2 separate regions of the Homo sapiens genome follow, and region 1 is linked to region 2. Evidence: fine-mapped expression QTL. A gene starts in region 2. The other region holds a variant in brackets. All regions are shown on one strand. Distances are between the middles of the regions.

The links. PIP is the estimated chance that this variant, and not a neighbour inherited with it, causes the effect. A credible set is the group of variants that fine-mapping cannot tell apart.
Region 1: its variant is the best candidate, but not a certain one, in a credible set for the expression of RAB23 in fibroblasts (GTEx, PIP 0.68).

Annotation. Positions count from the first base shown.
Region 1 is chr6:57,241,122-57,245,520 of GRCh38, reverse strand. It overlaps a transcript of PRIM2 not described here. Among named protein-coding and RNA genes, the nearest start is that of LINC03001, 20 kb to the left of the region's middle. The variant A/G (reference allele first, on the strand shown) is at 2,030.
Region 2 is chr6:57,220,237-57,224,635 of GRCh38, reverse strand. It overlaps RAB23 (RAB23, member RAS oncogene family), which reads left to right and starts at 2,329. Exons shown (of 7, transcript NM_016277.5): 1 at 2,329-2,910. It also overlaps a transcript of PRIM2 not described here. RefSeq lists a silencer at 2,626-2,975.

The DNA of each region.
Region 1 (4,399 bases), 21 kb before region 2:
TGGACATGAGTTGCAGTTCCCTGAGCTAACTTGGCAATTTGGTTACCAAACCTCACACAAAGGCTACCTTGCGAGTTTACTGGCACCTCCAGTGATGGCAAATATAACTAACCCATAAAGCATGTAAGAGGTAGGCAGGTGATGCATCATGGGTGTATGAGCTTCATGCACAGCCTTGCACTCAGAAAGACCTACACTATCTTGGAATAATTAACAATTTTATCTTTGATCTTGTGTTTTTAGCTTAATATGATAGGACGATGGAGCATGCTCAACAGCAGCATGGAAGTCATCAAGCAACCCGGCATCCTGGTGACCTGGCCTGGTAACATGCCTTGGGACCATCCTGGGCACCATAGGGCTCCAAGGTGGGTAGGCCTGCACCTAAGCCTAGACTGGTGGGGGCAAATGCAGCAGCAGAAACAGTGGAGAGAGGAAGGCCTCAATGTAGGGCAGTGCTGGGACTCGTGGAGGAAGGGCAGTTCTTCCCTGCCGGGAGCCATCCCTGCAGCCTGTACCTGAGGCATCTGCACACATATCAACTAACTCACTGACCTGAGCAGAGTGAGAGGAGCTGCCTATGCTCAGGAAGTGACTTAGCAAACGTGTTCCATAATTAATACGAAATAAAAGCATAGAGACATGGCAATAAAACGTTTCAGGGAGTTTTTAGAATTCCTCAAGGAGTTCAGAAACTTTGGTTTTGAAAACTGCTGCAGTGTTGCAGGGCAAATACCCACAGGCATGAAAACAGAAATTAAGCAATTTTTTTTTTTTTTGAGATGGAGTTTCGCTCTTATCACCCAGGCTGGGCTCACCTCAACCCCTGCCACTCGGGTTCAAGCGATTCTCCTGCCTCAGCCTCCGGAGTAGCTGGGATTACAGGCATGCGCCACCACGCCCAGCTAATTTTGTATTTTTAGTGGACACGGGGTTTAATCCATGTTGTTCAGACTGGTCTCGAACTCCCGACTTCAGGTGATCCACCTGCCCTGGCCTCCCAAAGTGCTAGGATTACAGGTGTAAGCCACCGCGCCCAGCCAACAAAATTGTATTCAATGGAAAAGAACACTATTTTCATATAAAGCCTTAGCTGAACCAATTTTTAATGAGGAAGACAATTTTAAAATTAATTTTTTCTTATGTGAACAAAAGTTCTCTGAAAAGGAATTTGGAAGAAAGAGACTTTATTCCAGTGAACAGTTTGCAAACTGGGAGATACAGCCTTTGGTGCAAAATGAAGGTGCATTTCGTTAAACAAAGAGAGGGTTCAAGTTCCTGCCCAGCTTCCGGCAAATAAAGGATTCAAACTTGCTTAGTTCTGATTGGTTGGTGCAGCTAAGTTCTGATCGGTCAATATGGCTGGTTTCTGATTGGCTGCGGTAGGTGAGCTCTGATTGGTCGTTTTCCAAGCCCAAACTCAGACGTCACAGGCTTGATTGCAGAAAGGGAGATCCAGTGATACTTCTACATCTTTCTGAGAACAGAATATGTGACTGCTTCCTCGTCCAGCTATGGCTGCATAGTTCTGTTTTTGAGCACCTCAGCCATGAGGAGTCCATTCTATCTGTCAGCCAGGGGTATACTTTAACAGGTATAATTAAAGCTACAGCATAGAATGCATAATTAGGCCCTTTGAATTACATAGAAGTCAGAAGCTACTTTCAGGTTCTCCCACAACCTCGGCAACTTACAGGAAATGTTGGAAGAATCTTTGAAACAGATTTGTATGAAAAACTAAATCCTGGCCAGGCGCTGTGGCCCACACCTGTAATCCCAGCACTTCGGGAGGCCGAGGCGGGATGATCACCTGAAGTCAGAATTCGAGACCAGCCTGGCCAACACGGTGAAGCCCCATCTCTACTAAAAATAAAAATAAAAAAAAGAGTCGGGGCGTAGTGGTGTGCACCTGTAGTCTCGGCTACTTGGGAGGCTGAGGCAGGAGAATCATTTGAACCCGGCAGGCGGAGGTTGCAGTGAGCTGAGATCGCACCACTGCACTCCAGCCTGGGCAACATACCGAGGCTCC[A/G]TCTCAAATAAATAAATAAGCAAACAAGTAAATAAATAAAACAGGATTTAACCTTCTCATCTGTCCCAATATTCCAATTAACATACCCTCTTAATCTTTATCTTAGGGACCAACATCATTCCTTTCCTCATCTTTCTTCCCCCTTTCTCATATGTACACAGCCTCCCATTCTGAACTCAGGCTTTCAATAGCCACCAACCATCAGTAGCACACAAACACTCCTTATCCTTCTTCTTTCCCCATTAAAGCTCCCTTTTCCTGATACCAGGCAGTTATTGAGGGGAAAGGGTTAGGTAGTGAATGACCATCATCATTTGTATGTTTTTGCCATTTGCATTCTAAGAGGCTATGCAATATTAACATTCAGAATGTGTGAAGATGTGAATGAAGAATTATAGATTGCAAATGAGAGCAGATTGAACATTAGGAACCTTCTAAGAACCACTTATCCTTCATAGGTGGCTGACCTTGGTAGATGATATTGATAGTTGATATCGAATTGGAGAACATGGGTTTATGGAACAAGTAATACTACATTGTTTGAGAACATCTGTGAAATTCACAAAAGATATTTAAAACAGAATTTCTAGAAAATTCTTCTTTTCCATGAAAATTTACTCCTGAAGCACAAAACTCAAGGCAAACATCACTGTGAAACTGCCTGTGATTACCTCAGATACAAATCCAGATCAGATTACATCATTGCCTAATTATAATGTAAGGAGCCTGGACTTTTCAAGGCTCCAAATAAAGCCCAGATAGCAACACTGGTTTAAAAAAAGAGAAAAAGAGGCACATGATATGTTACTAATCTTCCTCTGAGAGTTAAGTAAATACACACCCTGAGACGTCATACAGTAAGAACTTTAAAATTGTTTATACCATATTAGGAAAAAAGCTTACACTATGATTAACATGTTTTTCCTTCTGATTTGGTAACCATCATATTGGTTTGGAAAAACATGACGCAATTTAAGTCAATTGTAAGTTATTTTATTTCCATTTTTTAGCCACAAAACATAATTTTTTAGTATTAAATTATTGTTCTTAAAAATAACCTAATTTAAATTACAATAATTCCCTCACAAAACATTGTTAGTAGATTAAAAAAATCAAAATGGCTCACTGTTTTCTGTTTTATTTATTTAAAAGCAATTTTCAAACACAAAATAAATGTAAATCTACATTTTATTGGCAGGAAATTTTTAATGCTTTATTGCTTTTAATGTGTTTTAACATGAAGGAAGTTTTTAGGTATTTTTATTTAAAGATACTGGAAGAAAGAAAGAATTATTTACTGAGCATTTACTGTATGCCAAGCTGTGTTCCAGATATTGATGTGTGATCTCATTACCTTGTACCAGAACATTGTACGAAACTAACTGAAGAAACAACTTATTATTGTTAATATTATTAATAATAGTGAGCCTTTATCAGTCACTTTACAGTTGACACAGAAAATTTTAATGTAATGTCTTTATCTATTTACATATTCATAGTTTAAAAAATTAAATGGTTCTGGCCGGGCACAGTGGCTGACGCCTGTAATCTCAGCACTTTGGGAGGCCAAGGAGGGCAGATCACGAGGTCAGGAGATCGAGACCATCCTGGCTAACATGGTGAAACCCCATCTCTACTAAAAATACAAAAAATTAGCCAGGCGTGGTGGCGGGCGCCTGTAGTCCCAGCTACTTGGGAGGTTGAGGCAGGAGAATGGCGTGAACCCGGGAGGCAGAGCTTGCAGTGAGCCGAGATCGTGCCACTGCACTCAGCAAGACTCCATCTCAAAAAAAAAAAAAAAAATACATAGTTCTGCATAGTTTAGTATTAAAACAGTAATCTAGTAATTCCATACTCCTCCCCATCCCCCCAATTCTTGTTTCCAAAGACTTTCAACACTTTTTTCGGTTTCTTTTGGTATTTACAGCCATTTCTATCCTTGCTAATACTGCTATTTTTTAAAGTTTTTTTTTTTTCTGCTTGCCATTCCTTCAGCAGTTTCCTGAAAAAGTTTTCAGTTTTACACATCTATCAACTTCCTATCATGAAGAGGAGAATCTGCTTTTTTTATTTTTTATTTTTTAAAACAGGGTCTCACTCTGTCATCCAGGCTGGAGTGCAGTGATGTGATCATAGCTCACTGTAATCTCAAACTCCTAGGCTCAAGTGATCCTCCAGTCTCAGCCTCCTGAGTAGCTGAGACAACAAGTGCGTGCAACCACATTCAGCTAATTTTTCTTTTTTCTTTTTTTCTTTTTTTTTTTTTTTGAGACAGAGTCTCGCTCTGTCGCCCAGGATGGAGTGCACTGGCGCAATCTCGGCTCACTGCAAGCTCCGCCTCCTGGGTTCACGCCATTCTCCTGCCTCAGC
Region 2 (4,399 bases):
CCATTAAAAAGAAATTTGGCAAGATATACATAAAACATAAAATTTACCATTTTTAGCCATTTTTAAGTATAAAGTTCAAGAGCATCAAGTTTATTCACATCGTTGTGCAACCATCACCACCATCTATCTCCAGACTTTCTTCATCTTGCAAAGCTAGAACTGTAGACATAAAACAGTAACTCCCCATTCCCACCTGCCCTTCCTTTCCCACAACCACTTCCCACCCCCCAACTGTCTCTATGAATTTGACTACTCTATGTACCTTATATAAGTTGAATCATACAGCATTTGTCCTTTTGCGACTAGGCATAATGTCTTCAAGCTTCATCCATGCTATAACATGTGTCAGAATTTCCCTCTCTCTCTTTTATTTTTGAGACAGGATTTGCCCAGGCTGGTCTTGAACTCCTGGATTCAAGTGATCCTCCCATCTCAGCCTCCTAAGTAGCTGGGATTACAGGGATACCTCGCCACACCTGGGTCCCTCCTTTTTTAAGGCTGAATAATATTTTATTGCATGTATATACTACATTTTGTTCATCCATTCATCCATTGATGGACATTTGGGTTGCTTCCACCCTTTGGCTATTGTGAATAATGCTGCTATAAACATGGTTGTACAAATTTTTTTTTGAGTCCCTGTTTTCAATTCTTTTGAATATATACTCAGAAGTGGAATTATTTAATCATACGATAATTCTATTTTTAATGTTCTGATGAACCATACAATTTTCCATAGTGGCCGTACCATTTTACATTCCCACCAGCAGCACACAAAGGTTATAATTTTTCCACATCCTTGCCAACACTCATATTTATTTTCTGTTCTGCTTTGTTTATAATCATCATTTTAATGAGTGTGAAGTTGTATCTCATGGTTTTGAGTTGCATTTCCCTCATGATTAGTGACCTTGAGTCTCTTTTCATGTGCTCATCGGCCATTTGTATACCTTCTTTGGAGAAATGTCTATTCAAGTCATTTGCCAACTTTTTAATTGTTTTTTTTCTTTTCTCAGAAAGGGCATCAGTACGTTACTCAAGTTTAAGAGATACTGCCAACCAAATCCTAGAGATAAATCTGTTAGCTACTTGATATTAAATTTCTTACAAATACTATTGCTATTATAGGTAAAATAATCTCCACTAATTTTTAAAATTATTAAGTGTGAATTATAATTCACATACAGAAAAATGTGCATAAGAGTACAGCTTGAATTTTCACAAATGGACACGCATTTATAACTAGCGCCAAAATCAACGGAGAGAACCTCACTAGAAGGAAGCCCCTCTTCCAGTTGCTAACTGGAAGCCCCTCTTCTAGTCGCTAACTCCTTCCAGTCACTATCCCCTGCCCACCAAGGTAACCATTATGCTAACTTTGAGCCTCTTAGTTCTTCTGTTTTTGTAGTTTATAGAAATGGACTTATGCCATGTGTACTTTTGTTGTCTTTTTATGCTGGGCATTAGGTTTCCCCAGTTGATTCACGTTATTGCCTGTAATTGCAGATGCTTTTTTGCGTTGCTGTATAGTGTTTCATTATATGAACTCTGTGTAATTTCATTAATTTATTCTATTGTTGATGGTCTTTTGGGTTATTCTCATTAAGGAATTATTACAATAAATGCAGCTACGAACATTCTGATACCTGCCTGTCCGTGCACCCTAAGTATTCGTTTCTCTTTGCTCTATATGCAGGCGTGGAACTGCGGGGCCATAGGGTATGCACCTTTTGCAGACAGTCCCAAACTGTTTTTCAAAGGAGTTGTTCCAGTTTACATTCCAGCAGCAAAGTAGAAGAATGCAGTTACTCTACATCCTGGCCAACACTTGGTATTTTCCATCTTTTTTTTCTATTCTATTTTATTTTGAAATATAAAAACAACTGAAGCAAAGTTGAGATTGCTTTTGCGGAACCTTTTCGTTTTTGGTTCGCTTCTCTGAATAATTAACCATCTCAGGCTTCTATTTTGTCCTGCAGGCTGTGTGAGTGCGTTTTCGACTTTGCTCGACATTTTTTTGCTCACTTGGCCACTTAAGATGTCATCTGGTCAAGAAAATAAGGTAGGTGTCCGAAGCGGGGCAAGCCCTTTGAGGACACTGGAAGTGTGATAACTCTGTAGGCGAAACTCATGCGGACCGTCATTGGCCGATTTCTCTTTTCTAGAGTTCACGATCTAGGAGATCCTGCTCGTCTCTGATCTCCCCACTGCCCTCCCGGGCTCCCTTGGAGGCGCCTGGAAAGCTGAGCCGCCGCCAGCCACCCGCCAGAACAGGGGCGGGGCAGGGCCGCGGGTCCGCACAGAGCATGCGCAGACGAAGCACGGCGCATGCTCCGCAGCGCGGCGGGTCCACAGATGAGGGGAGTCGAGACTCCCGCGCCCCACCACCCCCGGCGGAGCTGCTGCTGAGCCACTCAATCTGAGCCCTGGCTACTAATAAAGTTCGTTTAAAAATCATAATCATTCTTAAGAGAGCGAAAGAGGGTGCGAACTAGCCGCTCGGCCCCGCAGGGAGAGCTGGCGCGTCGGGAGGAGACAGCGGCGGCAGCGGTTGCGCCGCGACCAGGAGGAGCCGGTGGCGCCGGGCGGCGGGTCCGCGGCCGGTGGGGGACGGTGAGTAGCGGCTCGCGCTGCGGTGCAGCGGCGCTGCACTCACTCGCCCTCTCCAGGGGCTGGGGGTTCGTCCGGCTCCACTGGGGAAGACTCAGCTTCTCCCCGGGGTCCCGGGTTGTGCCTTACTCTCCGGAGTGGGCAGGGGTATCGAGGGCAGGGGCCTCCCGGCCCGGCTCCCCCATCCCCCGGTTCGGACCGCCGAGCGCCGGCTCTCCCCTCCCTGAGCACCGATCCCAAGTTCCAGCTAGAGAAGGTGGGCGGCAGCGCCAGCCCGGCGCCCCCTCCCAGCTCCCAGCGGTGGGTACCTGGAATTGCCTGGTGGGCGGGAAAGAGGGGTGGAGCGAGGGCGGCGCTGCGTCCCCAGTCTGGCCGAACGTTCGGCTTTTTGCCTGCCCCAAGTCCCGACTGGGGAAGGGGCGACCCGGGCTGGGCCAGACACCAGTAAGGGCGTGAAGTGCTCAGGTTAGGTTTGATGGCGAAGAGAGTCCTCAGCTCCACCCTGGCATTTAGACTCCTCCCTGCAGTGCGACCACTCTTTACCCGCGACCCCACCCTTCCCTAGTTTCTTGTTCATAGAGTGCTGGAATATGAATGAGCCAAATTGTGCTGTTCCATTGACACTGGTTGCTACAGAATTAACTTTACTCGGAGATCCGAGGAGCCATCGGCAGTTCCCAGGAGTAAGAACCTGAGAGCGTGTGAGAGTAAGAACTTCATTATCAGGAGCTAGTGAAGTGGCAGTAGGGTCTGAAAAGGGCTGTTAACTTCTCTAGGTTTTTATGTATCTCCTAACATCTAGGTAATTTCATTGACCCTAAGAAGTTTTTCAGTATTTTTACAAATATAACCTGTACTTCTACTTAAATAAAGGCTGTTATGAGAAAACAACCTTTTGATTAGTGAGTTAACTCACCCTTTGCTTCTCTAATTTATTAGACCGCATTAGCAAAATGTTAAAAGTTTTGGGGAAAGGGTATTTATATAAAGTATTATTGTCGAGGTTTTTAATTGTACTCAGAAGTATGCTTATTTCTAGGAACGTAATTGTTTTGATCTAGTGCTTTAAGTCTATAGTTTCTGAAAAGCAAGAGTCCGACTGCCTGTTAAAATTTAATTTGGCTTTTTTCTTTAAATTTATTTTAAGGAAATTAATTTATTATTTTAAAAAGTGTATGGTAAAATTGATTTTTTTTCGATGTACAGTTCTGCGAATTTTAGACTCATGTAACCACCACTACAGTAAGGATGTAGAACAAATCTATCGCTCCCCCGCCACAGAAAAAAAACCTAATGTGATCCCATTATATCATACTCCTTACCCCTGGCAATTACTAATCTTTTCTAGAAATGAAATCATAACAGTTAGTAATCTTTCGATGTTAGCTTTTTTTCACTCAGCATAATGCCTTTAAGATTTCTCCAAGTTGTTTCATGTATGGATAATTTCTTTTTTTATTGCTGAGTACTATTTTATTATGTGGATATGCCACAGTCTGTTTCAACATCTGCCCATGGAAGGACATTGAGGTTGTTTTCAGTTTTCTGTGATTATGAATCAATCTGCTATAAATACCATGTACAGGTTTTTGCATGGACATGTTTTCATTTCTCTAGGGTATTGCTAGGAGTGGATTGCAGGGTCATATGGTAAATGTATGTTTAACTTTTAAAAAACTGTTAAACTGTTTTCTGGAGTATCTGTGTCATTTTGCATTCCCACAAGCAACATGTGAGAGTTCTAGTTGCTCCACATACTCCCAGCATTTGATAGTGTCAGTTTTTTTAA